6 separate regions of the Homo sapiens genome follow, and regions 1, 2, 4, 5 and 6 are each linked to region 3. The links come from fine-mapping of genetic effects on gene expression. A gene starts in region 3. Each other region holds a variant in brackets. All regions are shown on one strand. Distances are from middle to middle. Region 1 has its middle 22 kb from the start of SCART1. Region 2 overlaps LOC105378575 (a long non-coding RNA gene). Region 3 holds the start of SCART1 (scavenger receptor family member expressed on T cells 1). Region 4 overlaps MTG1 (mitochondrial ribosome associated GTPase 1). Region 5 has its middle 18 kb from the start of ADGRA1-AS1. Region 6 overlaps LOC105378575 (a long non-coding RNA gene).

Region 1 (5,313 bases), 23 kb after region 3:
GGGGATGGCCCTGCTGCCTGAGGATCCCAAAACGTTGGAAGATGAGGGACTCTCATTGGGCTTTGAGGATCCCCGTAGCCCTAGGACAATTCCAGGTATGTAGCAGGTGCTCCCACATCTTACCACTTAGCTTGGATTTTGAGGTTTAAATGCTACAAATATGGTTACTTATTGTGGGCCATGAAATAACCTTAAATCAGTGTTGCAGTGACCTTTGATACTGAATGTTTTTATAAATCAACATTATTTTTAAAGAAAAGTGGTGTGTTTGATTAGGAAAATCCGGCATAGCTGAAGGTTATAACACATTTGAATAAATTAGAGGAAGTGTTCAAATCTTGGGTTGCTGAAATGCTATTACATATACTGTCATGGAAAATAGATAATCATTGGCCAGAGATTAAAAACATGTGCCGATTGATTGAGTTGAAGGATGTTAGAAGGTTTGGAAAATTAAAGGGGCCAGTTGTCTTCCTGTGATGAAATTAAGAAGCACTTTAAATCAGCCATGGCCACGTCTCTGGTTCTTTTGCAATGACTGTTTTCTCCATGTCTTATTTTCTGCACTTGGTCTCTAAGATAAATTGCTAGGTTTCTCCTGAGCACAATTATCATCTCAGTTCTACCTGTGGGCACTTGCTGTGACCACCTACACTGCTTTACCAATCAGTTGTGGGCCTTTGGCCCAAACAAGGAAGTGAGTCAACCCCCATGGGCTCACAATGCCTCATCTACGTGGCCAGGCCTGCTGAGTGCAGAGTGGGGGTCTGGGCTTCAGCCTGCCAGAAGACTCTTAGTCTCCTCAGACCCTTTGGATGCTCCATCCTTGAAGTCAGGACAGTGTCTCCCTGGACACTGCAGGCCACCTCAGCGTCTGGATGGGCACATAAGAATTGTGATGAAAATATTTACCTTCCCGAGTTCACATCAACAGCCAGACATGCTGACAGTGTGCATCCCGGTGTGGTGTGATGAGAATGTCACGTGCCTCTGTGTCTTTCCGCCCCAAAACCCGTAACTTTCATCATGAGTAAAAAAATAATCAGGCGAATCCCAGTCAAGGGAATACCTGGAAGATACAAAATACCTGGCCAATATTCTCCAAAACTACCAAGTTCATCAAAAGCAAGGAAAGTCTGAGAAAATGCTGCAGTCAAGAGAAGCCTAAGGAAACTCCTAACTGTGATGTGGACAGAAGGACGTTAGGGGAACACGGAGGAACTGGGAATCAGCCATGGATTGCAGTTGACAGTATAGGATCGATACTGGCACATTAATGTAACACATGCTAATGGGAGATGTCAGTAACGGGAAACTGGGTGGGGGCAAATTTAAAACTATTCTAAAAGATTAAGTCTATTTAAATAAAATTCCATCCTCCTGCAGGGAGGGTTGCACATGGCCCTTGTGTGCCCAGGGCAGAGGTGCTGGGGAGAAGCCACCAGCTCTGGAATTGATCTCCCCAGGTCCATCACCCAGAAGCCCTGCAGGTGCCCTGGCCTGTCTCTGCTCGAGCCTGGGGGCGGTTCCCATGGGGACCCCTTTCTACCTCCGAGTGGGGTAATTGCTCCCTGAGAGCCGCTCCTGGGGACACGTGGGCCTCTGTAGCAACCTCAGCATCCACCCCGAGGGGACAGACTTCACTCAAAGGTCAGCATCAAACACAGGAGACACTGACTGGGAAGAGACGGGCGTCAGCCTTGAGGCACCATCATGTCCATGGACATGTGGGCTCCCATTTAGACAGGAGCTGGCCTAGCCACACTCCTCACTCAGTGAGTGGCTGCAACCCTCCATGCCTGCCTTCCACATGGATGACCCACCTAATTTTCCTTTCAATGTTTTTGAAAAGTCAGATCTGATTCTACCCTGCCCTGACCTACATTAATGTGGAAAAAATGTTGCTGAAATTGCTTTGCTGTTGTGTTGAGGGTTTCCGTTTGAAACTCTAAGTGCCTGGGAACCTCTGTGGGCCTGCACTGTGCCCTATCTGTGCCCTCGATCAGGTGAGCAAGAAGCCGGAGCCCCGTGGTTTGGCCTTTAAGGCAGATCAGGATCTGTAAGAGGGGCCTGGAAGCTTCCTGTGAATCTGGTGCAAGGCTCCACCTGCCCTTGGTTTCACAGGCAAATGGGGCTCCTGTGATGGAGGATGGATTTCGGGCCTCAGACTGGGCAGCCAGGAGGTCTTTGGGACTGCCTGAGCTGAGGGCTGCCTGGGCTGAGGACTGCCTGGGCTGAGGGACTGCCTGGGCTGGGGGGACTGCCTGGGCTGAGGGCTGCCTGGGCTGAGGACTGCCTGGGCTGGGGGGACTGCCTGGGCTGAGGGCTGCCTGGGCTGGGGGGACTGCCTGGGCTGAGGACTGCCTGGGCTGAGGGACTGCCTGGGCTGGGGGGACTGCCTGGGCTGAGGACTGCCTGGGCTGAGGACTGCCTGGGCTGAGGACTGCAGCTGAAGGCTGCCTGGGTTGAAGACTACCTGGGCTGGGTGCCTCCTGGGCTGGGAAGGAAGTGGGTTTGGCCTTGTTTCCTCTGATGTTGACTAAGCCGCCTCTCCTTGCCCTGGGCTGGGCCTGTCCTGCCCGAGGAGGCTAGGTGGTCAGAGATGGGTGGTGGGAGAGGTATGTGAGGTTGGTTGAGTGGAGGCACTGGATTAGGGGCTGCACCGAGGCTGGGTCTGTGCCTTTCTTT[G/A]ATGTATCCAGTCTCGGACACAGCCTGACACCCCCTGATGGAACAAACCTCCCACCCAGACCAGGAACAGGAATGGCCAGTCCATGCCCGCTTCTGCATGGAGTCTGCCCTCCTGAGGGAGCGGCCTGGGGTGGCTGAGGTAGGGCCGCAGTCATGGTTTCTACTAAGGAGCTGTGGCCAGGTCAACCTACAGCTGAAATCTGACAGCTGAGGTCACCTGGCCAAAAGAGCTGGAGTCTGGCCTGGTGGTAGTTGGAGCCACTCACTGCCCTGATGTCCCCACATGCCTCCCTTTGGAGAGTGCCCCTCACAGCCTCTGCAGGTGAAACCTGTGCTGTCCTGACGCTAACTCTCCATAAAGCCCATGCCTGCTGGGTGGTTTTCCTTCTCCGCGACCCAGAATCTTGTGCCCAGGTCACTGATGTGGTCTCCACCTGCCTCGGGGGCCAAACACACTTGCACACCACGAGCTTCTGTGTGCTGGAATAATGGAGGAAATGTTTAAAATCAAAGCAATGAGAGGCTCTTGCTGCATTTTTGTTATTTACTGTGATGCCAGCCCCGCTGCAGGCCGGCAGGGAGCACTGTCCTCGGGGGTGAGTGACGCTGGGCTTGTTGACTCCCTCGCAGAGTGGAGGGTTAATGCTCTGATTCTCCCTGGGCGCAGGGACCCATGTTAACATCTTAATTATGTGCTTTCTGCAGCAAAGTTGCCAACAGCAAACTTTCCCAGAGAGTCTCAGCAGGACAGCGAACAAGGGGACAGGTCCCAGAGAGTCTCAGCAGGACAGCGAGCAAGCGGACAGGTCGCAGAGCGACTCAGCAGGACAGCGAGCAAGGGGACAGGTCCCAGAGAGTCTCAGCAGGACAGCGAGCAAGCGGACAGGTCCCAGAGAGTCTCAGCAGGACAGCGAGCAAGCGGACAGGTCCCAGAGAGTCTCAGCAGGACAGCGAGCAAGCGGACAGGTCCCAGAGAATCTCAGCAGGACAGCGAGCAAGCGGACAGGTCCCAGAGAGTCTCAGCAGGACAGCGAGCAAGCCGACAGGTCCCAGAGAGTCTCAGCAGGACAGCGAGCAAGCGGACAGGTCCCAGAGTCTCAGCAAGACAGCGAGCAAGGGGACAGGTCCCAGAGAGTCTCAGCAGGACAGCGAGCAAGCGGACAGGTCCCAGAGAGTCTCAGCAGGACAGCGAGCAAGGGGACAGGTCCCAGAGAGTCTCAGCAGGACAGCGAGCAAGCGGACAGGTTCCAGAGAGTCTCAGCAGGACAGCGAGCAAGCCGACAGGTCCCAGAGAGTCTCAGCAGGACAGCGAGCAAGCAGACAGGTCCCAGAGTCTCAGCAAGACAGCGAGCAAGGGGACAGGTCCCAGAGAGTCTCAGCAGGACAGCGAGCAAGCGGACAGGTCCCAGAGAGTGTCAGCAGGACAGCGAGCAAGCGGACAGGTCCCAGAGAGTCTCAGCAGGACAGCGAGCAAGGGGACAGGTCCCAGAGAGTCTCAGCAGGACAGCGAGCAAGCGGACAGGTCCCAGAGAGTGTCAGCAGGACAGCGAGCAAGCGGACAGGTCCCAGAGTCTCAGCAAGACAGCGAGCAAGGGGACAGGTCCCAGAGAGTCTCAGCAGGACAGCGAGCAAGCGGACAGGTCCCAGAGAGTCTCAGCAGGACAGCGAGCAAGGGGACAGGTCCCAGAGAGTCTCAGCAGGACAGCGAGCAAGGGGACAGGTCCCAGAGAGTCTCAGCAGGACAGCGAGCAAGCCGACAGGTCCCAGAGAGTCTCAGCAGGACAGCGAGCAAGCGGACAGGTCCCAGAGAGTCTCAGCAGGACAGCGAGCAAGCCGACAGGTCCCAGAGAGTCTCAGCAGGACAGCGAGCAAGCGGACAGGTCCCAGAGTCTCAGCAAGACAGCGAGCAAGGGGACAGGTCCCAGAGAGTCTCAGCAGGACAGCGAGCAAGCGGACAGGTCCCAGAGAGTGTCAGCAGGACAGCGAGCAAGCGGACAGGTCCCAGAGAGTCTCAGCAGGACAGCGAGCAAGGGGACAGGTCCCAGAGAGTCTCAGCAGGACAGCGAGCAAGCGGACAGGTCCCAGAGAGTGTCAGCAGGACAGCGAGCAAGCGGACAGGTCCCAGAGAGTCTCAGCAGGACAGCGAGCAAGCGGACAGGTCCCAGAGAGTCTCAGCAGGACAGCGAGCAAGCGGACAGGTCCCAGAGCGTCTCAGCAGGACAGCGAGCAAGGGGACAGGTCCCAGAGAGTGTCAGCAGGACAGCGAGCAAGGGGACAGGTCCCAGAGAGTCTCAGCAGGACAGCGAGCAAGGGGACAGGTCCCAGAGAGTCTCAGCAGGACAGCGAGCAAGGGGACAGGTCCCAGAGAGTCTCAGCAGGACAGCGAGCAAGCGGACAGGTCCCAGAGCGTCTCAGCAGGACAGCGAGCAAGGGGACAGGTCCCAGAGAGTGTCAGCAGGACAGCGAGCAAGGGGACAGGTCCCAGAGAGTCTCAGCAGGACAGCGAGCAAGGGGACAGGTCCCAGAGAGTCTCAGCAGGACAGCGAGCAAGGGGACAGGTCCCAGAGAGTCTCAGCAGGACAGCGAGCAAGCCGACAGGTCCCAGAGCGTCTCAGCAGGACAGCG
Region 2 (5,313 bases), 54 kb after region 3:
TTGTATCCTCTTTTATTTCCTTGAGCAGTGGTTTGTAGTTCTCCTTGAAGAGGTCCTTCACATCCCTTGTAAGTTGGATTCCTAGGTATTTTATTCTCTTTGAAGCAATTGTGAATGGGAGTTCACTCATGATTTGGCTCTGTGTTTGTCTGTTATTGGTGTATAAGAATGCTTGTGATTTTTGTACATTGATTTTGTATCCTGAGACTTTGATGAAGTTGCTTATCAGCTTAACTAGAAAATCTAGAAGAAATGGATAAATTCCTTGACACATACACTCTCCCAAGACTAAACCAGGAAGAAATTGAATCTCTGAATAGACCAATAACAGGATCTGAAATTGTGGCAATAATCAATAGCTTACCAACCAAAAAGAGTCCAGGACTAGATGGATTCACAGCCGAATTCTACCAGAGGTACAAGGAGGAACTGGTACCATTCCTTCTGAAACTATTCCAATCAATAGAAAAAGAGGGAATCCTCCCTAACTCATTTTATGAGGCCAGCATCATTCTGATACCAAAGCCGGGCAGAGACACAACCAAAAAAGAGAATTTTAGACCAATATCCTTGATGAACATTGATACAAAAACCCTCAATAAAATACTGGCAAAACGAATCCAGCAGCACATCAAAAAGCTTATCCACCATGATCAAGTGGGCTTCATCCCTGGGATGCAAGGCTGGTTCAATATACGCAAATCAATAAATGTAATCCAGCATATAAACAGAGCCAAAGACAAAAACCACATGATTATCTCAATAGATGCAGAAAAAGCCTTTGACAAAATTCAACAACCCTTCATGCTAAAAACTCTCAATAAATTAGGTATTGATGGGACGTATTTCAAAATAATAAGAGCTATCTATGACAAACCCACAGCCAATATCATACTGAATGGGCAAAAACTGGAAGCATTCCCTTTGAAAACTGGCACAAGACAGGGATGCCCTCTCTCACCACTCCTATTCAACATAGTGTTGGAAGTTCTGGCCAGGGCAATTAGACAGGAGAAGGAAATAAAGGGTATTCAATTAGGAAAAGAGGAAATCAAATTGTCCCTGTTTGCAGATGACATGATTGTATTTCTAGAAAACCCCATTGTCTAAGTTTTATTTTGATTCACTTCTTGTTGTTCTGGGCTTTATGGTCAAGTAATTTGTTTTAGAAAACTTTACTGGGAGGTGACATCAGCAACATGGTGGCACAGGAGACTTCTACCTCTCCCTCCACCCATGGACACGTGGAATAAACACCTACACATGGATAAATTTTCTTTGAGAGAAAGTCAGAAAAAGTTGAGAGTCTCTTACACAGCAGACAACTGAGAAAATATTCACATCAAGCAGGTAGAAAAAGCTGAGGCACACGCAGGCACAAATATCACCCTGGGTACTGCACCATAAACCAGGAAAAACTCCCAACACATAACTTCTCCCTGAGGAGAGAAGGGTATGGACCACATGTATATGACCCTAGCTCCAAGGTTCCCATGGTTTGACTTTTAATTCACCTAGCTCTGGTAGTGGAAGGGACTAGGCATACACAAGTCTCCCTAGACCACAGAACAAAGTAGCAAAACCCTAAAAGGAGTTTGTTGGTATACTCCTCCAACTTCTGCTAACAGCAGAGCTTCTAACTAGCCTGAATTAGGGAGTTAACCGGGCTGACAAACTACAATATTCCTCTGTTATTGATGGTTTTTCTTTCCAAAGTTTCAGTTAACTATGGCCAACTGCAGTCTGAAAATATTAAACGGAAAATTCCAGAAATAGACAGTTTGTAAGTTTTAAATAACTGTTATCACCATATGTTGTTATAATTGTTCTATTTTATAATTAGTTATTATGTTTCCTTCATTATTGTGCCTAATTTATAAATGAAACTTCATCATAGGTATGTATAGGAAACAAAGCACAGTATATATAGGGTTTGGTGCCATACACAGCTGCAGGAATCTGCAGAATGTCTTGGACTGTATCACCCACGGATAAGGGGGACTAGTGTATAGCCCTCCGGGAGGCTAAGCAGTAGCTCAGCACATCTTAAGCCTTCTCCTCTCCTGTGGTTCACCTGTGATATATCCAGATCTACCCATTCTTTCTGGAAGAGGTTTGTCCACACACTGACTGCCCCAACTTTTACAGCTCCCACCCAAAAGACTGCATCCTAAACTGTCTAACTCTGGGAATGAAAGCGTCTTGGCATTTGCTAGTCTCCCTAGATTACGGTACAAAGAGGTAGTTTTAAATGGGCAGGCAAGGTTGGGCGCGGTGGCTCACGCCTGCAATCCCAACACTTTGGGAGGCCAAGGTAGGTGGATCACCTGAGGTCAGGAATTCGAGAACAGCTTTGCCAACATGGTGAAACCCTGTCTCTACTAAATATACAAAAATTAGCCGGGTGTGGTGGCGGATGCCTGTAATCCCAGCTACTCGGGAGGCTGAGGCAAGAGAATCATTTGAACCCAGGAGGCGGAGGTTGCAGTGAGCCGAGATTGCACCACTGCACTCCAGCCTAGGCGGCAGAGTGAGACTCCGTCTCAAAAAAAAAAAAAAAAAAAAAAAGAAAGAAAAAAAATGGGCATGCAAGCACTTATAGGAGTTACACCCGCAAGGACCAATGCAGACAAGAGGTTAAATACACGCCTTCCAGTTTCTCCCTGGAAGGGGTTAGTCTGCACAATTTTCCAGTTACTGCTTAAGGATCAGGCTCCTATCTAGCCTGCATCTGGGAGCCAACAGGGCCGACAAACGATAGACCTCCAGGATTCTGAATGAGAGTTCAGGCACTTCCCAAGCCTTTCCCTCCACCTCACCCCAGTGATAAAACCAGCTCTGTAGATTCCTTTTAGAAGTAGTTTGTGCACCAAGTGCCACAACTTCTACAGCTCCCACCCGGAGGAGTGCCTCCTTAACCACCTAACTTTGGGAATTGGTGGGTCTCTGCATTTCTGAGTCTCCGTGGACGACAGAAAATAAAGAAGTGTACATTCAACAATCCAACTTCTAGTGACTATCAGAGGGTGCATTCTGCATGAAAATGCAGACACTTGTCACAGATCCTTCTTCTGACATAGTGCATAGAGAGTGGGAGATAAACTCTTGCTCTTAGCTTCACCCTGAGCAAAGAAGAAACTGGAACATATATTTAACACTCCAATCTTTCCAACTGCATCTAGTTTCTATCTTACCTATCTCAAGGCA[C/T]TGACAGGACTTGGCACATTGTAAAATTCTACGGTGGGCAGTCGGGGGGCACTAAAATCAGAGACAGTGGTTTGGACAAACCAGGATTTAAGAGGCACCTCAGAATCTCTGGACCAATTGGTGAGGGCCTTCTCCTACACTGACAGAACTGGGAGTCTCACAGTCTGACAGAACTGGGAGAGGCTGCTGTCTTATGTAATGCACGGACACTAATACAGAGAAACAAAGGAAATAGAAAAACAGGGAAATGGGTTCCAAATAAAAGATCAAGATAAATCTGCAGAAACCAACCCTAGTGAAGTGGAGATGTATGATCTACCCAATGAGGAATTCAAAATAATGGTCATAAAGATGTTCACTAAGGTCAGGAGAAAAATGCATAAACAAATAATTTCAAAAAAGAGATAGAAAGTATTTCAAAAGCGGCCAATAGAAATTATAAAACTGAAGAATATAATAACTGAACTGAAAAATTCAGTAGAGGTGTTCAACAGCAGACCAGATTAAGTGAAAGAGAGAACCAGTGAGATTAAAGACATGTCATTGGAAATAATCCAATCCTAGAAGTAAAAAGAATGAAAAAGATAGCTTACAGGACTTCAACAAGCAGAACAATATATTCAGAATTGGTAGACCAGGAGGAAGAGAGGGAGAAAGGGACACAAAACATATTCAAAGAAATGATGGGGAAAAACCTCCCAAGCTTAGGGAAATAAATTGAAATCAAGATTCAGGAAACTCAGATGACACCAAATAGGAAAAATCCAGAGACACACATTTGAGACATATTATAATCAAATTGTTAAAAATTTAGACAAAGAGAGAATTTTGAAAGCAACAAGGGACAGCAAATAGTTACACAAAAGGGATGCCCACCGTGTAAGATATCCATGGATTTTCTTTTTCCAGAAACTTTATAGGCCAGGAAGGAGCTGGATGATATATTCAAAATCCTAAAAGAAAAAAAAATTACTGCCCAAGAATACCATACCTAGTAATACTATCTTTCAAAAATGAAGGCAAGAATAAGACTTTCTCAAACAAACAAAAGTCGAGGAAGGATATCACCATTAGATGTGCCTTACAAGAAATTCTAGGAATTCTTCAAGCTGGATTAAAAGGATACTAATTGATAGGATAAAAATACAAAAATAAAAAACTTACTGGTAAAAGTAAGTACATTGTCAGATTCAAACTAGTAATCAGGCAATGGTCTTCTGTAAAACAATTCTATCTCTAGTACAAAGGTTAAAAGATAAAGCAATTAAAAACAACCATAGCTACAATAATCTGTTGAGAGATACAAATGATGAAATGATATAAATTGTGACATCAAAAGCATAAAATATGAGGTGGGGGAGTAGAAATGTAGAGTTTATTTATGCAATCAAAATTAAGCTTTTATCAGCTTAAAAATAGCTGGTTATAAACATAAGATGTTTTCTGCAAGCCTCAAGTAACCACAAAGCAAAAATCTGTAGTAGATACACAAAAGATAAGAAGAAAATAGTCAAAGCATATCACTATAGACAAGCGTCAAACCATCTAAGATCAAGAACAAGACAAGGATGCCCACTCTCACCACTTCCATTCAACGTAGTACTACTGTCAGTCTTAGCTAGAGTAATTAGGCAAGAGCAAGAAATAAAAGGCATCCAGATTGGAAAGGAGGAAATAATACGGTTCCTGTTTGCAGATGACATGATATTACGTACAGAAAACCATAAAGACTACATCAAAACTACTAGAACTGATAAATAATTGCATTGAGGGAATTGTTTTGTACCCGTTTATGGTGGGAGTTACATAAAATATAATATATACTACAATAAATATAATAAATATACTCTATATTATAAATATAATATATATAATACATATAATAGCATTATATTTCATAGATCTGTACACCAAAGGAAAAGAAGTCTATTTTACATATGATGATTTTGAAAAATAAAAGAACGGAAAGTAGTATGGAGACTTCTGTTTAATGATAGTAGATGCGTGTCATTTTTATTATACTCTCCTCTTTTGAAACTAGCCAAGAATAACAATGGAACAAAAAAGAAAATTCCAAAATTAGTGCAGCAGGGAAATTGCCATGAG
Region 3 (5,313 bases):
CTCAGCACTTTGGGAGGCCAAGGCAGGTGGATCACCTGAGGTCAGGATTTCAAGACCAGCCTGGCCAACATGGCGAAACCCTGTCTCTACTAAAAATACAAAAATTAGCTGGTCGTGGTGCCATGTGCCTGTAATCTCAGCTACTTGGGAGGCTGAGGCAGAAGAATCGCTTGAACCTGGGAGGCGGAAGTTGCAGTGAGCCGAGACTGCACCATTGCACTCCAGCCTGGGCAACACGAGTGAAACTCCATCTCAAAAAAAAAAAAAAAAACTTGCCATTTGTGGCAGTGTGTGCATGTAGGACATTCTATTAAGTGCAATAAATCAGGTACAAAAATATCAATACTGCAATACTGCTAGTTGTCACTCACATGTCGGGACTAAGAAATTGACCTCATATTAGTAGAGTAGAATTAGAGTTACTAGAGACTGGTAAGGGTTAGGGGAGAAGCAGATAGGGAGAGGTTGTTTAATAAATACAAAGTTACAGAGGAATAAGTTCCAGTGTTCTGTAGCTCTGTAGGGTGACTATAATTCAAAATAACTTGTTGTGTATTTTCAAATAGCTAGAAGAGAGGGTTTTGAATGTTCCCAACAGATAAATGATAAATGTTTGATGGGTTTGGTAGTTACCCTGATTCGATCATTATGCATTGCACACATGTATCAAAGTATCACTCTGTATCCCATAAATATGTACAATTCTTACATGTCAATTAAAAATAAGGCACTTCCTGCTTGCTTCCATTTCAGACGAGAAATTAGCTGTAATTCACATTTTACCATTTTTTATAGTCAGTGCAATCCTTTTTGTCTGGCTGTTTTTAGGATTTTTTTTTCCTTTGGTTTCCAAACGTTTAATTATGATGTGTCTTGGTGTGAATGTCTTTGAATTCATCTTATTTTGGATTTCTCAGCTTCTTGAATCTGTAGTTTTGTGCCTTTCACCATATTTGGAGAATATTTAGTAGTTGTTACTTTAAATACATTTTCAGCCCCATACGCTCTCTTATCTTTCCTGAATTTCCCAGATACAAAGATTAAGTCTTGTTATTATTGTCCCACAGATCCCCGAGGCTCTATAAATTTTTCTATTTTCTCTCTGTTGTTTGCACTGTGTAAATTCTATTGAAGTATCATCAGGTTCACTGGTTCCTCTGTCATTTCCATTCTACTAGTCCGTTCATTGAGTTTTTAACATTTCAGTTATTATATTTTCAGTTCTGTAATCATTTATTTTAAAAACAATTTAATTGAGGTTCATGTATCATAAATGCACTCTTTTAAAGTGTGTGGTGCAGAGGATTTTAGTATATTCAGGATTATGCAACCAGCACCACTAATTTCAGAACATTTTCATCACCTGAAAAAGAAATCCTGTAGCTGGCTGTGGTGGCTCACACCTGTAATCTCAGCACTTTGGGAGGCCAAGGTGGGAGGGTCCGATGAGGCCAGGCGTTTGAGACCAGCCTGGGTACATGGCAAGGCTTTCCATCTCTACAAAAAAATTTAAAAAATTAGCCAGACATGGTGGCATGCACCTATAGTCCCAGTTACTCAGGAGGTTAAGGTAGGAAGATCACTTGAGGCCAGGAAGTTGAGGCTGCAGTGAGCTATGATCATGCCACTGCACTCCAGCCTGGATGAGAAAGTGAGACTCTGTCTCCCAATAAATAAATGAATATATAAATACATAAATAAATAAAAATAAAAAAGAAAAACACTATACTATTTTCAGTCATTTTCTCTTTCCTCCTTCTCTAGCCCCTGGAAACCATGAATCTAATTTCCTTGTCTATTGATTTGCCTATTCTGGAAATCTCATATGAATGGAATCGTACCCAGTATGTGGTCTTTTACATCTGGCTTCTCTCACTGAGCATGTTTTCAAGGTTGACGCACATCCAGCCTGTGTGGGTGCCTTGTTCCCTTTCTATGGCTGAGTGACATTCCATAATGTGGACATACCGCATTTTGTTTCTCCATTTATCAGTGGATGCACACGTGAGCTGTTTTCATCTTTATTATGAATAATGCTGCATGGACATTCATGTAGAGATTTTTGTGTGGACATAAGTTTACATTCCTCTTAGATATGTACCCAAGAGTGGAGTTGCCCCTTCTGGGCTCAAGTGGTATCTTCCAGGAGTATCTCTGTTTAACATTTTGACAAACTGCCAAACTTTCTCAAAGCAGTTGCACCATTTTTGAATCTACCAGCAAAATCTGAGAGGTCCCATTTCTCTACATCCTTACCACTGTTTCATTTTGTTTTTAAGACAAAGTCTTGCTCTGTCACCCAGGCTGGAGTGCAGTGGTGCAATCTCAGCTCACTGCAACCTCCGCCTCTTGGGCTCACGCCATTCTCATGCCTCAGCCTCCCGAGTAGCTGGGACTACAGGTGCATGTCACCCTGCCCGGCTAATTTTTGTATTTTTAGTAGAGACAGGGTTTCACCATGTTGGCCAGGGTGGTCTCGAACTCCTGACCTCAGGTATCTGCCCACCTCAGCCTCCCAAAGTGCTAGGATTACAGGCGTGAGCCACTGCGCCTAGCCTGTTCCATTTTTATAACTTCTATTTCTTTGCTGAGATTTCAATTTTTCCACTTATTTCAAGAGCATTTGCAATTTGTTGTGGAAACATTTTTATGATGCCTGTTTTAAAATCCTTGTCAGATAATTCTGACACCTGACTCTTCCTGGTGCCGCCCTTAGTTGGTTGTCTCTTACTGAAATGGTCGTGTCCCTGGGTCTTCATATGATGAGTGATTCTTAACTGTATCTTCTCTCAAGGGTTTTCATTCCAACGACAGTTCAGTTCTCAGAGTTCTTGCAAAGCTCTTCCGTGTCATTCTTCTGGTGCTGCTGGGACTCCCACTCAAACCCTAATCCTACCCCTACCCCTAACTCTGCTAGTGCCATCTGCTGGCACAGAGGACGCCTCCTTGGCTGTCTGGGGCCACTGCCTTCTGTGGTGGTGGCATGGCTGAAGCCGACGGGCCCGGGTGGAGGGCAGAGACGCAGGGCTTCACTGATGCTGTGCTGTGGGCAGGTTGGACCATCTCTGCCTGATGGTTGGGTCTAGTCCCATCAGCAGCTTGATCAGTGTGGGAGGAAACCCACAGCCTGCACCCTCCCCATGTCTGGTGATGCTCAGGCCAGCAAGGCATTGGCTGCTCTGCTCACGGCTGAGAGGCAGAGCTGCTGATTCGCTCTGGAAAGGCTGTGGCTGTCCCCATTGGACCCTGGAGGTCCTTGGCAGCTCCCACTTCTGTATATGTGACTCTGGGCTGTGACCTCTGCCATTGCCCCAGCTAAGCAGCGAGAGCTTGCTGAAGCCCAGAGGGCTGTGGGACCATGAGGGCAGCTCTCTGGACCCTGGGACTCGGGCCCCTTCTTCTGAATCTCTGGGCAGTCCCCATTGGTAAGTTTCTGCTTCCTTCATCCATGGAACTTTCTGGAGGCATCAGCTCTGTTGATGCCCAGGCCCCGGGGCATGAGGGTCCCTGCAGTGACCTGCCGTCTGCCTGGGTCTCACTCAGCCCAGAGTGGGTGGGACATGCTGGGGCAGGAGGGAGGTGACTCCACATGGCTGGATCCCTGTGACCTCAGGGCCCCCAGACCCTAGCCCCACTGCTTGGAACCCAGGGTTCAGGGCTGGGTCAGGCCCTGGACAAAATGAGGGACACGGCCCAGTGTCTGGTCCCAATGACCCTGATCAACAGAGTCCTGAGGGGTCCTGCGGGGGCTGCTCCATCCACGTGCCCTGGAGCAGGGCTGAGGTCCTGGGAAGGAGGTGGGAGGGTTGGCTGCATCTGGCAGTGAGGTTGAGCATGGGGTCCCATGGAGATGCTGCACCCAGGTGGAGACACTGGGGTGTGAAGCCATGTGGAAGGGCTGCTGGGTCAGGGGCAGGGAGGTGTAGAGAGGGGGGTCTAGCTAGAAGGAACAGCAGGAGAGGCTGGAGGTGAGAGGGAGCCCCGGGGACCTGCGTACGTGGGCATGGAGCCATGATGTGAGTGTGGGGCTGGGCGGGAGGCAGGGGAGGGTGCCCTTGAGGCTGAGGAACACTTCACTGTCAAGGCTGGTCCAGGTGCCCAGCAGGGCGGTGACCTGGTGCTGGACGGAGCCACATCCCCAGCGGTGGGGTGGAAGTCTGTGGGCAGCTGCAGAAAGTGCAGAGGAGGTTAGGATTTGAAGGAAAGGCAGCAATGTGGCCACAGATGGATGGAAGCCTGGGGTTGAAGGGATTTGCTTTTGTGTCAACGATCGCATGCACAAGGGCCGGAATTCTCTATTACAACAAGAAATAGCTTTAGAAAATATAAAATGAAAAGCTATTCATAGCGGGCGTGGTGGCTTATGGCTGTAATCCCAGCACTTTGGGAGGCTGAGGCAGGCAGTTTACCTGAGGTCATGAGTTCGAGATCAGCCTGGCCAACATGGTGAAACCCCATCTCTACTAAAAATACAAAAATTAGCCAGTCGTGGTAGTGGGCGCCTATAATTCCCGCTACATGGGAGGCTGAGGCACGAGAATCAGTTCAACCCTGGAGGTGGACATTGCAGTGAGCTGAGATCGTGCCATTGCACTCCAGCCTGAGTGACAGAGCGAGACTTTTGTCTAAAAAAGAAAAAATTGCAGACACCAGCACGCATCCATGTCCTGAGAAGAACCAGGTGGGGAGGGTGATGAGGAGGCTGGGGGGTGTGGAGGGATGGATGAAGACTGAGAGAGAGGAGATTCAAGGCTCCCCAGGAGGTGGGAGGGAAAGGTCTTCATCTTGGACCAGGCAGGGTCCCCCCTCTGCTCCTGACTGCCATCGGGGAGGCTCTTTTCTGGGTGTGGAGAGTCCTCCAGGGGCCCTGGAGGCTGCTCTGGGACCACACAGCACCACCCACATGGACTTCCTCCTACTGGTTGCTTCATTTTCCTCGGGGTGGCTGTGTTGATGTGGGGTTGCAGAGGCCTGGAGAGGGTGGTTAGGGGTGCCTCCGTGGCGGGTGGGAGAGAAGGTGCTGGAGTAGCTGAGATGCTCAGAGACCGGAGGGTGAGATCCTGCCTGGAAGCCGGTATGGGTGGGGTAGTGGGGCTGGGTTTGGCATAGTGGGAGGGCAGGCAGGGGTGGTTTTCCTGGATACTCAGGGTTGCAGAGGACAGGACCGAAGGGTGAGCGGGGCACTCCAAGGGGTGTGGACAGTCACGTGGGTGGGGCAGGTGTGACAGTGGTGGGCTGGAGACCACAGGGCCTCCAGTGGAAGTAGGGGAATGATGCTTGGGAGGCAGAGAGTGGGTGGGAGGACCCACCCAG
Region 4 (5,313 bases), 33 kb before region 3:
CCAATATCATACTGAATGGGCAAAAACTGGAAGCATTCCCTTTGAAAACTGGCACAAGACAGGGATGCCCTCTCTCACCACTCCTATTCAACATAGTGTTGGAAGTTCTGGCCAGGGCAGTTAGGCAGGAGAAGGAAATAAAGGGTATTCAATTAGGAAAAGAGGAAATCAAATTGTCCCTGTTTGCAGATGACATGATTGTATATCTAGAAAACCCCATTGTCTCAGCCCAAAATCTCCTTAAGCTGATAAGCAACTTCAGCAAAGTCTCAGGATACAAAATCAATGTACAAAAATCACCAGCATTCTTATACACCAATAACAGACAAACAGCCAAATCATGAGTGAACTCCCATTCACAATTGCTTCAAAGAGAATAAAATACCTAGGAATCCAACTTACAAGGGACGTGAAGGACCTCTTCAAGGAGAACTACAAACCACTGCTCAATGAAATAAAAGAGAATACAAACAAATGGAAGAACATTCCATGCTCATTGGTAGGAAGAATCAATATTGTGAAAATGGCCATACTGCCCAAGGTAATTTATAGATTCAATGCCATCCCCATCAAGCTACCAATGACTTTCTTTTTTTCTTTTTTTTGAGATGGCATCTCACTCTGTCGCCCAGCCAGGCTACAGTGCAGTGGCACAATCTCAGCCCACTGCAGCCTCCACCTCCTGGGTTCAAGCGATTCTCCCGCCTTAGCCTCCCAAGTAGCTGGGATTACAAGCATGTGCCACCACACCTGGCTAATTTTTGTATTTTTAGTAGAGACAGGGTTTCACCATATTGGTGAACAGGCTGGTGTCGAACTCCTGACCTCAAGTGATCCGTCCACCTTGGCCTCCCAAAGTTCTGGGATTACAGGCGTGAGCCACCATGCCTGGCTGGATGCCATGTATTTTGAGTTTCACCTTGTTAGGTGATGGATATCTACATTCCTGTAAAAATTCTTGAGCTTTGTTGTGGGACAGTTAGATTATTGGAAACAGTCCGGTCCTTTCAGGAGTTCTTCCCATTGGCAGGTCTCGGGGGTGGTCCGGGGCGCCTCCTCCAGGCTTGCTCCTCTCTCCTGGGACAGCTTTTTTGGAGCACCAGGGCACCCTTGAGGCTGCTGATTCAGAGCTCATGCTTGGTGCCTCCGAGAAGTTAGATTTAGAACCTGTGTTACTCAGGGTTCTGATGCTCCTATGGGCTCTGAGCTCATGTCTTGCTTTGCTGGGCCTTGGGGTGAGTCCTCTGTTACCGGCTCATGCTGTGACCAGGTCCGAGGGCACCAGCCTCCTCAAGGTTGAGCCTGCCCTCGTGGGAGCCACGAGACAGGTTCCCCTCACCCCTGGCTGTCAGGAAGGTTGGGAGAGTGTTGGGTCTGGGTTAGTCGGGCTCCCAAGGCTTAGGGTGGTGTTTGTCCCTGTGAGTGGCTGCTCTGTGCTGGCCTTTCCCTCCAGGCCTCTCTGCCCAGAGCCTGCACTGTGAGGAGTCAGAGTGCCCGTTACAATCACTGGGTGACGCTTAGCAGCGGTGGGTGCCTAGTCAGCCCATGCTGGTCCCTGTGCTAGGAAAACACCGCTCAAACACCCAGCCGGGTGGAGAGGATGCAGGTGTACTGGCTGCCTGGAAGTTACCGAGTGCCATCCTTAGCAGCAAACAGAGTATGTTTGCAGATGGTCTGCTGTGCTCCTCTTTTAGTTTCCAGGACCTGGGCCTGCACAGAGGCCTGCCTGTCCTACCCCGGATAGAGTGGATGAAGCCTGTGTGTGTGAACAGCTGTTACTCCTCCCGCTGCGGCAAGGGCTCCGGTGGTGGGAGCCGCCCCCCATGCTGCTGGCCGTGGCCACACAGGACGAAGCTCAGGGATGATTCTTAGATAGTGGCTCTCCCCCGGGGCCCAGCACCGGTCACCTGCAGTCTCATCTTGGTCATCCACAGCGCCGCAGTCACTGTCACCCACAGGAGGTGCCTGGCCGTGGCCTTTGTGGCATTCAGGAGGAAGGGCCCGGCCTGGCTGGCCGCGCGGTGTCAGTGCTGGGCCCCCTGGTGCTGACCTGCAGCCTATGTGCAGGTACGTGCAGCACTACGGCCTGGGCAGTGCCTGTGACAACGTAGAGCGCGTGCTGAAGAGTGTGGCTGTGAAGCTGGGGAAGACGCAGAAGGTGAAGGTGCTCACGGGCACGGGTGAGTGAGGTCGCTGATGCGGGCACCGGAGCCTCACCCCATCACCCTGGGGGACCCCGGCCATCCCTGGAGGAGGCAGGGAGGAGAGGAACGTGTCAAGGAGCATGCGCCGGGTCTTCTGGGAATGGGTTTCAGGGCAGGGGAGCTACAGAAAGTTCTGGAGAGGAAGGGCTTGTAGTCCAGGCTTCCGAGGGTGAGACCAGCCCTGCCGCGTATTGGGCAGTGCTAGGTGGACACCTGCAGGCCTCACATGCCTGGCCTTGGAGGCTCCGGGCAGCGTAGCTCAAGCTGTTTTCTTTCTGAGTGTGATCCCGTTCCCTGGGCTTCCCTGATGCCATCATGGAGCCTCTTAGGGCTGGTCCCTCAGGTGGGTAAGGGCTGGGCCTGTCCTGCTGTGAAGGCTCCTTCCTCACTGAACCCTCCCGTCCCCCAGGTAACGTGAACATTATTCAGCCTAACTATCCTGCGGCAGCCCGTGACTTCCTGCAGACTTTCCGCCGTGGGCTGCTGGGTTCCGTGATGCTGGACCTCGACGTCCTGCGGGGCCACCCCCCGGCTGAGACTTTGCCCTGAACTTGTCCGGGTAGGGAGGGCCGGAGGCATGTGGCCTCCCAGACCTCCTGACCTGGGTGGTTGAGGCTCAAGACAGCTCACCCGGTCCAGAAGCTCCATGCTGGTCACTAGGGTGCTGTGCTCTCTGGCGCCCCACAGCCTGGCCAGCTCCAGGGACCCCAGTTGCAGGGCCCAAGCAGGTGGGAGTGGACACCAGGCTTCCC[A/T]GTGGACGTCCCTGAGCAGCTCCGCATGCTTGGTTCTCCCGGAGCTTCCTGCTCAGGCCTCTTGAGAAATGGATGCTGTCTCAGAAGGAGTTAAAGCTATAACCTGTAACCTTTAAAATCTCCAGTTAAAGGGCCTGTTTCTTACTGGCCTGTGAGGTGCACCGTAGTGCCTTGGGCCTGTGTGTTAAAGCTGCTCTCACCAGTGAAACCTAAGAAATGAGCAGGTTGGCAGCTAGGGTTTGTGTTGGAGGCTTTCGGTCCAGTGTCTTGCAGTCCTACAACAAGTGAGAGGCTTGCTGCCATCAGAGAGGTTTATTTCACACTTACAGGCACACACAGACACAGACCAGAGACTCCCAGCAGCAGAGCCCAAGCACTGGCTTCGCCCCTCAGTGCCCTGGGGCATGTTCAGGGCAGGGTTGAGGGGGACGCCCTGCACATGGCTTTGCTGTGCAATGACTGGAAGGCCGCCCGGCATGGGCAGTAGAGACCCCTGGCCTCTGAGCACCTTCTAGCTCACGGGTAGTGGGATTCTGCATTAGTGGGGCTGAGAGATGTGGGGGCCCCTCCAGCCCCATTATAGTGCACCTGAAGGGGTCCACAGCCTGTGTCCTAGAAGAGGGAAGAGGAAGGAAGGTGGGTGGGGCTGGTAGTATGGACTAAGGTGCTGCAGGACCTGGGGCCAGGGACATCCTGTGCAGAAGCTCCGGCTGCCTCTTTGCGGTGGTGGCCTGACCGTCCCACAGCAGCCTCCACCAGGGCCCTGGTGCTCAGTGGCCCCTCTTTGCTGGCTGGCTGCCTCTGCTGCCCCATACCCCACACACTCATCAGCCTGAAGTTAGCCCCTGAGTGCCACCTGCATCGTGCCATAACCCTGACCGCCTGGGGCAGGAAGTATTCAGGTTGGCTGTGTCAGATGCTAATGTGCTGAATCAACAGTCATTGCAGATCACGAAGTGTCCATCATAACTGGAACATTCCATCAGCTTGCAGTGCTGTGGTGTGTGAGGGTCTGGTGCAGCTCAGCCCATTTTCCAGGTGGGCATCTGCAAAGTTGAGGGGGCTCCGGTGGGTCTCTCTGCTGTGAGGAGACTCAGACCACCCCCTGCCTCCTGGGGGAAATGTCAGAAGGGCTTCTCTGCCTATGAGGATCTGGGGCAGGGCTTGGCCTTGGCCTGCTGGTCTTGGAGGCGTTGAGCTTGGTCTGGAAGGGGTGGAGGAGCGTCTGGGCTCACTGGGCCAGGGGCATTGCTGGCAGTGTGGACGGGAGGCTGCAGGGCGCTGCCTCCTGTGGCTTAGTGCCCTGGAGCTAGAGAGCAGTGCTTGGTTGAGTCCTGCCAACAGCTTCCAGATCCTCACCCAGGCCAGAACCCAGGCCAGCTGGGGAAGGCAGAGGCTGGCAGGGCCCGTGGTGGGTGCTGGTCTTGACTTTGGTGTCCACTGAGTCCCGAGGCTCAGGCCCAGGAGGGATGCAGTCCGGCTGAGGGCGAGGCTGTCCCCAGGACATGGAGAGGGTGAGATCCCAAGGCCACGGCGGGGGGCAGGGAGAACCCCTCCTACCCTGGATGAGTGGGTGACTGGAGAGCTAGAGAACGTGGCAGACCCAAGACCTCTCAGTGCTGAGCCCATGGAGGATGCCCCAGGCTGGCGGGACTGGGAAGCAGAGGGCTGGTCTTAACACAGGTGTGTCCAGTGCTGGAGGCAAGTCCTTGTCGTGACTGTCCAGCGCCACTCCATGTCTCTCCTGTCCTTGGATGTTGGGGGGCTCAGCCTCTTGCATGGGTGTCCTGCTGGGCGCTGGGCCCCGCCACTGGCCCCCTGCTTGCTTTGGGGTCTGAGTTAGCTCCTGGCTCCACTGAGCAGGCCGTCAGCTGCCAGCCCACCACGCGGATACCCAGGCCCTGTTCCGAGGCCTGGAACAGCTGCTTCCGAAGAAGGGGCTGCCTTCAGGGAAATGCGTGCACCGTGCAGCCTGTGCTGTGCCCAGGGAGGCCTCTTCAGCGGGATTGGCAGTTGCTGTGCCCTGAGAACAGGCAGAACTGTGTGATCCCTGAATGTGAACCTGAAGTTCAAAGGACTTGGAAAGCTCTGGAATGTGTTGGTTTTTCCCCCCCAAAATGGGTCCTAAGGAGGGTAAAGTGACTTGTTTCAAGTTGTTGGAGCAAAGTGGGTCTCTCACGGATCTCGGCCTGAGGGTGTGGGGGAGAAGGCCTGGACAGCCCCTCAGGGCAGGGTGTGTTTTCCCACCAGCCGCAGAGAGCCAGGATGGACGTTCCTCGGACGGACGGTTTTCCTGCTTGGGAATGTTCCTGGGCTGTGAGATCCACTCTTCTGGGCAGGTGGTTAGCACCTAACGT
Region 5 (5,313 bases), 380 kb before region 3:
GATGGAGGATGGATGGATGAGTGAGTGGATGGGTGGGTGGATGGGTGGATGGAGGGATGGATAGATGGTGGATGGATGGAGGGTGGACGGGTGGATGGATGAGAGGGTGGATGGATGGATGGATGGATGGGTGGATGGATGGATGGATGGATGGATGAGTGGGTGGATGAGTGGGTGGATGGGTGGGTGGATGGATGGATGGATGGATGAGTGGGTGGATGAGTGGGTGGATGGGTGGGTGGATGGATGGATGGATGGATGAGTGGGTGGATGAGTGGGTGGATGGGGGAGGGTGGATGGGTGGATAGATGGTGGATGGATGGAGGGTGGATGGGTGGATGGATGAGTGGGTGGATGGGTGGATGGTGGATGGGTGGAGGGTGGATGGGTGGATGAATGAGTGGGTGGATGGGTGGAGGGTGGAGGGGAGGAGGGGTGGAGGGGTAGGTGGGGAATGGATGGATGGATGGATGTTGGATGAATGAGTGGGTGGATGGGTGGATGGATGGATGGTGGATGGGGGAGGGTGGATGGGTGGATGGATGGGTGGGTGGATGGGGGAGGATGGATGGATGGATGGTTGGTGGATGGATGGATGGATGTTGGATGAATGAGTGGGTGGATGGGTGGATGGTGGATGGTGGATGGTGGATGGGTGGATGGATGGGTGGATGGGTGGATGGTGGATGGGGGAGGGTGGATGGGTGGATGGTTGGTGGATGGATGGATGGATGTTGGATGAATGAGTGGGTGGATGGGTGGATGGGTGGATGGTGGATGGTGGATGGTGGATGGGTGGATGGATGGGTGGATGGGTGGATGGTGGATGGGGGAGGGTGGATGGGTGGATGGTTGGTGGATGGATGGATGGATGTTGGATGAATGAGTGGGTGGATGGGTGGATGGGTGGATGGTGGATGGTGGATGGGTGGAGGGTGGATGGGTGGAGAGGTGGAGGGGTGGAGGGGTGGAGGGGTAGGTGGGGGATGGATGGATGAGTGGGTGGATGGGTGGATGGGTGGATGGTGGATGGTGGATGGGTGGAGGGTGGATGGGTGGAGAGGTGGAGGGGTGGAGGGGTGGAGGGGTAGGTGGGGGATGGATGGATGAGTGGGTGGATGGGTGGGTGCAGGGATAGGTGGGTGGTGGTTGGCAGGCATGGACAAGAAGAGGAAGAACGAACAAACAGATGGCTGGAGAATGGACAGGGCAACAGAGGGAAAGGAACACAGGATGGTTTCACCTTCAAAAAAAGAGGAAGGCTGGTTCCAAGGAGCAGCGGTCCAGCCTTAAGCATTTATTTTTCCCCGGAATTCATTATGCCTGTGAATACTGACACACGGGGCGGACATTTACGGATCCACATCATAAAGAAGTTGTTCTATAGAAATTCCAAAACTGGATGAAATATTAGGAACAAAATCATGTTTTAAGCTCCCCGCAAAGAAACATTAGCTGATAAGTAACAAAGAAGCAGAGGAGCTGGAGGAGGGTTTTCCGTTCCCTCCTCCTGGATCAGAGCTCAGGCCGGACTCTAGAGGGGGGGACTCCGCGGCAGCAGCTGGGCTCAGAAGACCGCACTGTGCAGGCGCAGACGCTGGGTTCAGACGCCAGAGCAGCTCGCTTCATGGAAACCACTGAGAAAGGGAGGAGAAAACTGTGAGAACAAATGTTTTCTCAGTAACTTTCTCTTAAATGAGGTTAAGTATCATAAATATACAAATTAGGTTAACAAAACAAATGTGTTTGGGACTTCCTCAACTACTTTGTGAAAATTATTCTGGTTTTATGTAAAGAAATGAAAGGTTTAGTGCTGTTTCTAAAAATGGCCATTACTGAATAAGGATGCAAAAGGCAGTGACAGAACAGTCCCGAAATGCCTGCGGTTCCCAGAGCCTGCAGGAGCCGGTCAGCGTGGGTGTGTGTGAAAGACAGACACACACAGACAGGCAGACGCATGGACACATGGGCACGCGGATACACAGCGGGAGGCTTTGCCCCACACTTCAGGGTGCTGTGGCCTGGTGCGGGCCAGGGGGTGGGGACTGGGCCGCTTCTCCCCGTCCTAGCTTGGGATGTGCTGCAGTGGGACCACCTGGGAGATGCTGGACCTTCCTCCTGGGACAGTGAAGAGCAGAGCTGTGAGCCCCTGCCTGCCTGCCCCACCCCCATCCCCAGCACTGTGCTGGCCACAGCAGCAGACACGTGTCATGTGTGCTAGAAAGCCTGCTCCCGGAGCCCCCTGCTCCCACCCCCAGCCGCCTTCACTCATCAAGTGCTGGCCATGACCCTGGGCCAGGCTCGCTCAGGGACAGATGGTTGGGTGGAGGGAGGCAGCGGCATCAAGCCATTGGGGCAGAGGCCAGGGGCACCCTGGTCTCCTGCACAGCCTGGCAGGTGGACACTGGACCTTCTTGGCCTTCACAAAATGGCTCCACTTGGCCCCACGACGCTGGCTGCACCTCACACCTTGGCTGGCTGTGGGTTTGCTCTGCAATGGGAGGGCTGTGCGGCTTCTTAGCCCATTGGCTGAAAGCTGGGAGAGGTTCCAGAATGTTCTGCACCAAGGGGCAGGGCACCTGTACCTGGGCAAGTATCCAGTCCAAGCATCCATGGTCACACAGACGAGAGGCCCCGCCCTCCCCTGGCCACAGCATGGCGCAGCAGAAGCCCTGAGAACTCGGCTGAGAGTGAGCCGGCGCTGGGGTGCACGAAGGGGTCTCTTTGCTCCGTGGGTTGTCAGCTCTCTGTGTCCTGGGAACAGCCACCCAGGGGTCTGCCCCACATCACCCGAAGGTGGCTGGCAAGTGCTGACCCTGTTCAGATCACGCTGGTGTGAGGTCCCCGTTGGCTGCCACCAGGACTGGCCCTGAGATGAGGGTTGGCCCCGCCATCTGCCCGGGCTCCCGGCACACCCGGTGCTCTGGGCAGCTCCAGTGCTCAGAGAAGCCTCCCCCTGGGTGTGTGGGGGCCAAATCCC[G/A]GCCTGTGGCCCCAACTGTGCAGCTGAGCCTGGGCCCTGAGTCCCAAATCTGCCATTTCCCTGAGTTCTCTGCAGCCCCTGGGGCTGTCATCACTTTATTCTTTTAATTAACTCTGCAATTACAGCCTCCTGTCTCTCATGCAGAAGCAGATTCGGGCTCTGTGGGGAGACAGGAGAGAGCTCCTCTCTGTGGATGCCGCCTCTCAAACAGCACCTGCGGCCGGCGTGGCTGGGTTTTAATTATTGCAAAACCCTTTGGTGGCTTTTCATCTGTTTCAGACCAAAACCAATAAACACATTCACTTATGTCTTGAGTGAGGCCGGCCCCAAGGGCTCCGTGTGGTCATGGCGCACAAGGACCTTTGGAGAAACCTCATCGTGCCCTTCGCTGGCCCAACCCCCGCGGATCGGCCGCCCCGGGCCTGGTTCCAGCTCCTGCCAGCTGCTGTGGGAGGCCTCAGACCCTGGGACCCACAGCTGGGAAGCTGGCGGGGAGGCCGAGGGGCCGTCAGCAGGTCTCAGGCAGGCCTCTGGGGTGCTCACACCAACCCTGTCCCATGAGTGACCTCAATGGAGCGAAGGAAGGGGTGGGAAGGCGGCCGACGTTTTTCTAGAAGCACTGGGAGATGTACTTGGCGTTCTGTTGTGTTTACAGAGGATGTCCATGTTTTCCTGGAGCAGTGTGAGGAACCTCGCCCGCCTCTGCCCAGGGCAGGCGTGGGAGGGCAGGGGGCCGTAGTGTGCAGAGCCAGGGGGCCCTGGGGTGCAGAGTCAAGGGGCCGTAGGGTGCAGAGTCAGGGGGCCGTAGGGTGCAGAGTCGGGGGCGTAGGGTGCAGAGTTAGGGGGCTGTAAGGTGCAGAGTCAGGGGGCCATAGGGTGCAGAGTCAGGGGGCATAGGGTGCAGAGTCAGGGGCCCTGGGGTGCAGAGTCGGGGGCGCAGGGTGCAGAGTCAGGGGGCATAGGGTGAAGAGTCAGGGGGCCCTGGGGTGCAGAGTCGGGGGCGCAGGGTGCAGAGTCAGGGGGCCATACTGCAGAGTCAGGGACCGTAGGGTGCAGAGACTGGGGGCCATAGGGTGCAGAGTCAGGGGGCCCGGGGGTGCAGAGTCAGGGGGCGTAGGGTGCAGAGTCAGGGGGCCCTGGGGTGCAGTCAGGGGGCATAGGGTGCAGAGTCAGGGGGCCACAGGGTGCAGAGTCAGGGGGCCCTGGGGTGCAGAGTCAGGGGGCCATGGGGTACAGAGTCGGGGGGACCTGGGTTGCAGAGTCGGGGGGCCCTGGGTTGCAGAGTCAGGGGGCAGAGGTGAAGCCACGCCCTGGGATGTTTGACCTCCCTGTGCCGAGGAGGTCTCCCCGCAGCCCCAGGCTCCTCTCCACCAGCAGCTCACCCTGCACTGGGGAATCTTTGAGAGCACAGCTTTTCTTCTTCTAGAGACAGGATCTCACCCTCTCACCCAGGCTGAGTGCAGTGGGGCGATCACAGCTCACTGCAGCCTCAACCTCCTGGGCTCAAGAGATCCTCCTACCTCAGCCTCCGGAGTAGCTGCTAATAGAGGTAGACACGACCACGCCTGGCGAATCTTTCCATCTTTTATTATGTAAACATGGCGTCTTGCTATGTTGCCCAGGCTGGCCTAGAACTCCTGGACTCAAGTGATCCTCCCACCTCTGCCTCCCACAGTGCCGGGATCACAGGTGTGAGGCCCTGCGCCCGACCAGAAGCTCTGTTCTGACCTCATTTCTCTCTCTATCTCTGCCCGCTGGCCTTTGAGGCTCGGAGGAGCTGGCCCTGAGGCCCTCACCACTCACTGACTCGCTGGCGTTCCTCGTCACTCTGCCCTGGGCCCTTCCCACGACTTCTCTCCTCTCCTCTTGGTTCCTATTCATCTTTCAAAGCCGCCTCCTCCAGGACACCCTGCCTGCTTGCTCCTCCCTTCCTTTGCCTCAGGCGAGTGCCTGTCCCTGGTGACTTGAGCCACAGCTATTTCTGTGCCTGTCTCTCCTCTGGGGCCGCCCACCCGGCTCACATCCTCCGTGGGACTTCGCCCATCCGCACAGGCCAGTCACCTAGTCACCTATTAGGAGGCCCAAGGAGCAATTTCAGAGATCAACTCCTCCATTGTTCTGCAATCTCGGATCTGAGTGAAGACACCCCAGCCTCTAAGGGGGGCGCAGTGGACCCAGGAAGGGGCACCTGCCCGGCAGATGCGAGGCCACGGGAACCACTCGCGGCTGAAATCCAGATGTGCTTCTCTGGGCAACGTCCATCACCACCAGGCACAGATGGCGCACGGTGCACACTGCCGAGGGGGCCGGACACCACAGTCACCAGACAGCCG
Region 6 (5,313 bases), 44 kb after region 3:
TCTCATGTTCTCACATTTCATAATCAATCATGCCTTCCCAACAGTCCCCCAAAGCCTTAACTCATTTCAGCATTAACTCAAAAGTCCACAGTCCAATGTCTCATCTGAGACAAGAAAACTCCCTTCTGCTTACAACCCTGTAAAATCAAAAGCAAGTTAGTTACTTCCTAGATACAATGTGGGTACAGGCATTGGGCAAAAACAGCCATTCCAAATGGGAGGAATTGGCCAAAACAAAGGGGCTACAGGCCCCATGCAAGTCCAAAATCCATCAGGGCAGTTAAATCTTAAAGTTCCAAAATTATTTCCTTTGACTCCACATCTCGCATCCAGGTCACACTGATGCAAGAAGTGGGTTCCCATGGTCTTGGGCAGCTCCGCCCCTTGGCTTTGCAGGATACAGCCTCCCTCCCGGCTGTTTTTATGGGCTGGTGTTGAGTGTCTGTGGCTTTTCCAGGCACACAGTGCAAGCTATCAGTGGATCTATCATCCTGGGGTCTGGAGGATGGTGGCCCTCTTCTCACAGCTCCAATAGGTGGTTACCCCATTAGGGATTCTGTTTGGGGGCTCTGACCCCACATTTCCCTTCTGCACTGCTGTGGCAGAGGTTCTCTATGAAGGCCTTGCGCTTGCAACAAACTTTTGCCTGGGCATCCAGGCATTTCCATACATCTTCTGAAATCTAGGCGGAGGTGCCCAAACCTCAATTCTTGACTTCTGTGTACCCACAGGCTCAACACCATGTGGAAGGTGCTAAGGCTTAGGGCTTGCACCCTCTGAAGCCATGGCTGGAGCTTTACCTTGGTCCCTTTTAGTCATGGCTAGGGGCAGCTGGGACACAGGACACCAAGTCCCTTGGCTGTACACAGCATGGGGACCCTGGGCCTAGCCCAGGAAGCCATTTTTATCTTGTACACCTCCAGGCCTGTGATGAGAAGGGCTGCTGTGAAGACCTCTGACATGCCCTGGAGAGGCATGTCTTTTCCCCATTGTCTTGTGAGTTAACATTCTGCTCCTCGTTACTTATGCAAATTTCTGCAGCTGGCTTAAATTTCTCCCCAGAAAATGGGATTTTCTTTTTCTATTGCATTGTCAGGCTGCAAATTTTCCAAACTTCTATGCTGTGCTTTCCTTATAAAATGGGATGCCTTTAACAGCACCTGAATCACCTCTTGAATGTTTGCTGCTTAGAAATTTCTTCCACCTGATACCCTAAATCATCTCTCTCTGGTTCAAAGTTCCACAGGTCTGTAGGGCAGGGGAAAAATGCTGCCAGTCCCTTTGTTAAACATAACAAGAGTCACCTTTGCTCCACTTCCCAACAAGTTCCTAATTTCCATTTGAGATCACCTCAGCCTGGACTTTATTGTCCATATTGCTATCAGCATTTTGGGCAAAGTCTCTAGGAAGTTCCAAACTTTCCCACATTTTCTTATCTTCTTCTGAGCCCTCCAAATTGTTCCAACCTCTGCCTGTTACCCAATTCCAAAGTCAATTCCACATTTTTGGGTATCTTTTCAGCAACACAACAGCCCACTCCTGGTACCAAAATCTGTATTAGTCAGGGTTCTCTAGAGGGACAGAACTAATAGGATAAATATTATATATGTATATATATATGTATATATGTAAATGGGAGTTTATTAAATATTAACTAACATGATCACGAGGTCCCCACAATAGGCTGTCTGCAAGCTGAGGACCAAGGAGAGCCAGTCCAAGTCCCAAAACTGAAGAACTTGGAGTCTGATGTTTGAGGGCAGGAAGCATCCAGCATGGGAGAAAAATGTAGGCTGGAAGGCTAAGCCAGTCTTGCCTTTTCATGTTTTTCTGCCTGCTTTATATTTGCTGGAAGCTCATTAGATGGTGTCCACCTGATTAAGGGTGGGTCTGCCTTCCCCAGCCCACTGACTCAAATCTCCTTTGGCAACACCCACACAGACTCACCTAGGGTTAATACTTTTTACAGTCCTTATTTCTGCAGCTGGTCATGTGGTCGTAGCTGGTATTGATGACTACCTTCTTCTATCACCCACTGTGTATTCCCTTTGCCTTCTGCAAGCACCTCATCAGATCAAGGTTTTTTTCCTGGTGGAGTGACTTAAACCTTCATTCCTGAAGGGTCTGGACCATTTGTAGTCCTCCCTGGATTGGGCTGTTGTAGTTTCTCATTGACCTTAATCACAGGGCATGGTAATACTAAGTGACATCCTAATGGATCTCCTGTATTCCATGCATGCTCCTCCTTACCTCTGTTATGGAGTAGTAGACTGATTTCATCTTGATAGTCTGGGTCAATCAACCTAGCCAACACTGTAACTCCCTTCTTAGCCTGTTTACTTAAAGGTAGGAGGAGCCCGAAGTGTCCAGGTGACAATCTTAACTTTCAGTTTAATGGAATTGTTGTTGTGTCTCCTGGTGGCAGTGTTACTCCCTCTGGAACTAAGATCTCTAGGCTAGCAGAACGTAATGTTGCAGGAACAGGAAGCAAAAATTTTGCTACTGGATCATTAGGGGTGATGGTGAGTGGTGCCACTTCCACTTCCACCCCTTGATTCCTGGACCCGTGAATCCTGGCTATGGGAGAAACAGTACCATATATCAGATGCTGATCCAGTGCATACACAGCCTTCTAGAGTACTTTGCCCCAGCCCTGCAAAGTATTGTCATCTAATTGACATGGTAATTGTAGGGTCCAGCCCCACAGGGTTGGTGCATTTTCTCCTTCTGTGTGGAGACGAGAGAGCGTAGAAATAAAAACACAAGACAAAGAGATAAAAGAAAAGACAGCTGGGCCCGGGGGACCACTACCACCAAGATGCGGAGACTGGTAGTGGCCCCGAATGCCAGGCTGCACTGATATTTATTGGATACAAGACAAAGGGGCAGGATAAGGAGTGTGGGCCATCTCCAATGATAGGGAAGGCCACATGGATCACATGTCCCCTGGACAGGGGGCCCTTTCCTGCCTGGCAGCCGAGGCAGAGAGAGAGAGGAGAAAGAGAAACAGCTTACACCATTATTTCTGCTTATCAGAGACTTTTAGTACTTTCACTAATTTGCTACTGCTAACTAAACGGCAGAACCAGGTGTACAAGATGGAACATGAAGGCAGACTAGGAGTGTGACCACTGAAGCACAGCATCACAGGGAGACGGTTAGGCCTCCGAATAACTGTGGGTGGGCCTGACTAATGTCAGGCCTTCCACAAGAGGTGGAGGAGTAGAGTCTTCTCTAAACTCCCCTGGGGAAAGGGAGACTCTCTTTCCCGGTCTGCTAAGTAGCGGGTGTTTTTCCTTGACAC[T/C]AACGCTACTGCTAGACCACGGTCTGCTTGGCAATGGGCATCTTCCCAGATGCTGGCGTTACCGCTAGACCAAGGAGCCCTCTGGTGGCCCTGTCTGGGCATAACAGAAGGCTCACACTCTTGTCTTCTGGTCACTTCTCACTATGTCCCTTCAGCTCCTATCTCTGTATGGCCTGGTTTTTCCTAGTTTATGATTATAGAGTGAGGATTATTATAATATTGGAATAAAGAGTAATTGCTACTAATGATTAATGATATTCATATATAATCATATCTAAGATCTATCTCTGGTATAACTATTCTTATTTTATATTTTATTATACTGGAACAGCTCGTGTCCTCGGTCTCTTGCCTTGGCACCTGGGTGGCTTGCCACCCACAGCAATTGTGACTTTGAAAGGCCATTCCACCGTTCTATCAATCCAGCTGCTTCAGGATGATGGGCAACGTGGTAAGACCAGTGAATTCCACGAACATGAGCCCACTGCTGCACTTCTATGGCCGTAAAGTGAGTACCTTGGTCAGAGGCAATACTGTGTGGAACACCATGATGGTGGATAAGGCATTCCATGAGTCCACAGATGGTAGTCTTGGTAGAAGTATCGTGTGCAGGATAGGCAAACCGATATCCAGAATAAGTATCTATTCCAGTGAGGACAAATCTCTGCCCTTTCCATGATGGAAGAGGTTCAATATAATCAACCTGCCACCAGGTAGCTGGCTGACCACCCTGAGAAATGGTGCCATATCGAGGAATCAGTGTTGGTCTCTGCTGCTGGCAAATTGGGCACTCAGCAGTGGCCATAGCCAGATCAGCCTTGGTGAGTGGAAGCTCATATTGCTGAGCCCATTCATAACCTCCATCCCTGCCACCATGGCCACTTTGTTCACGGGTCCATTGGGCAATGACAGAGGTGCTTGGGAAAGAGGCTGAATGGTGTCCACAGAAGTGGTCATCCTATCCACTTGATTATTAAAATCCTCCTCTGCTGAGGTCACCCATTGGTGAGCACTCACATGGGATACAAATATCTTCACAGTTTTTGACCACTCAGAGAGGTCCATCCACATACCTCTTCCCCACATTTCTTTGTCACAATTTCCGATCATTCTTCTTTCAAGTCCCTGACCATCCAACCAAACCATTAACTACAGCCCATGAATCAGTATATAATCACACATCTGGCCATTTCTCCTTCCATGCAAAGTGCACAACCAGGTTCACTGCTCTTAGTTCTGCCCACTGGGAAGATTTTCCTTCCCTACTGTCCTTCAGGGATGTCCTAGAAAGGGGCTGTAGTGCTGCAGCTCTCCACTTTTGGGTGGTGCCTGCATATCATGCGGAACCATCCACGAACCAGGCCCAACTAATTATAGGGAACTTCCCATGAGGCCGTTGGGGCAGGCTCGGGGAGAGAAGGAAGGGTGGCAGGAGTGGAGACCATGGGCATTTGAACCACTTCCTCATGTAACTTACTTGTGCCTTCAGGACCTGCTGGAACCTGATCACATATATACCACTTCCATCCTGTGGTCATTTCCCTAGTGCCACTTCCATTTGATGACGGAATGCTGCTGTGCACAACCCACTTAATGGCTAGATGGGTCAGAAAGCACCCAGTTTATGATAGGCAGTTCAGGTCGCGTGGTGACTTGGTGACCTACAGTCAAACGTTCAGTTTCCACCAAAGCCCAGTAACAGGCTAAGAGCTGTCTCTCAAAAGGAGAGTAGTTATCTGCAGAAGATGGCAGGGCCTCGCTCCAAAATCCTAGAGGCCTCCACTGTGATTCACCTATGGGAGCCTGCCAAAGGCTCCAAACAGCATGCCTATCTGCCACTGACACCTCAAGCACCATTGGATATGCTGGGCCATATGGCCCAAGTGGCAGAGCAGCTTGCACAGCAGCCTGGACCTGCTGCAGAGCCTTCTCTTGTTCTGGACTCCACTCAAAACTGACAGCTTTTCAGGTCACTCAATAAATGGGCTGGAGTAACACACCCAAATGAG

What was found.
Region 1: its variant is fine-mapped to the expression of SCART1 in whole blood (TOPMed, PIP above 0.99).
Region 2: its variant is fine-mapped to the expression of SCART1 in whole blood (TOPMed, PIP above 0.99).
Region 4: its variant is fine-mapped to the expression of SCART1 in whole blood (TOPMed, PIP 0.94).
Region 5: its variant is fine-mapped to the expression of SCART1 in cerebellum (GTEx, PIP above 0.99).
Region 6: its variant is fine-mapped to the expression of SCART1 in whole blood (TOPMed, PIP above 0.99).

Annotation. Positions count from the first base shown.
Region 1 is chr10:133,473,509-133,478,821 of GRCh38, forward strand. No RefSeq gene overlaps it. Among named protein-coding and RNA genes, the nearest start is that of SCART1, 22 kb to the left of the region's middle. The variant G/A (reference allele first, on the strand shown) is at 2,689.
Region 2 is chr10:133,505,130-133,510,442 of GRCh38, forward strand. LOC105378575 (a long non-coding RNA gene) reads right to left here. Exons shown (of 5, transcript XR_946512.3): 4 at 4,084-4,160. Among named protein-coding and RNA genes, the nearest start is that of CYP2E1, 20 kb to the right of the region's middle. The variant C/T (reference allele first, on the strand shown) is at 3,208.
Region 3 is chr10:133,450,640-133,455,952 of GRCh38, forward strand. SCART1 (scavenger receptor family member expressed on T cells 1) reads left to right here and starts at 3,306. Exons shown (of 12, transcript NM_001396050.1): 1 at 3,306-3,425. The coding sequence starts at 3,359. RefSeq lists an enhancer at 3,031-3,080.
Region 4 is chr10:133,417,413-133,422,725 of GRCh38, forward strand. MTG1 (mitochondrial ribosome associated GTPase 1) reads left to right here. Exons shown (of 11, transcript NM_138384.4): 10 at 2,068-2,180; 11 at 2,614-5,108. The coding sequence ends at 2,753. It overlaps SPRN (shadow of prion protein), which reads right to left. Exons shown (of 2, transcript NM_001391974.1): 2 at 3,254-5,313. Among named protein-coding and RNA genes, the nearest start is that of SPRN, 4.6 kb to the right of the region's middle. The variant A/T (reference allele first, on the strand shown) is at 2,957.
Region 5 is chr10:133,065,750-133,071,062 of GRCh38, forward strand. No RefSeq gene overlaps it. Among named protein-coding and RNA genes, the nearest start is that of ADGRA1-AS1, 18 kb to the right of the region's middle. The variant G/A (reference allele first, on the strand shown) is at 2,981.
Region 6 is chr10:133,494,194-133,499,506 of GRCh38, forward strand. All of the region lies in intron 4 of LOC105378575 (a long non-coding RNA gene), which reads right to left. Among named protein-coding and RNA genes, the nearest start is that of CYP2E1, 31 kb to the right of the region's middle. RefSeq lists a silencer at 3,330-3,409. The variant T/C (reference allele first, on the strand shown) is at 3,305.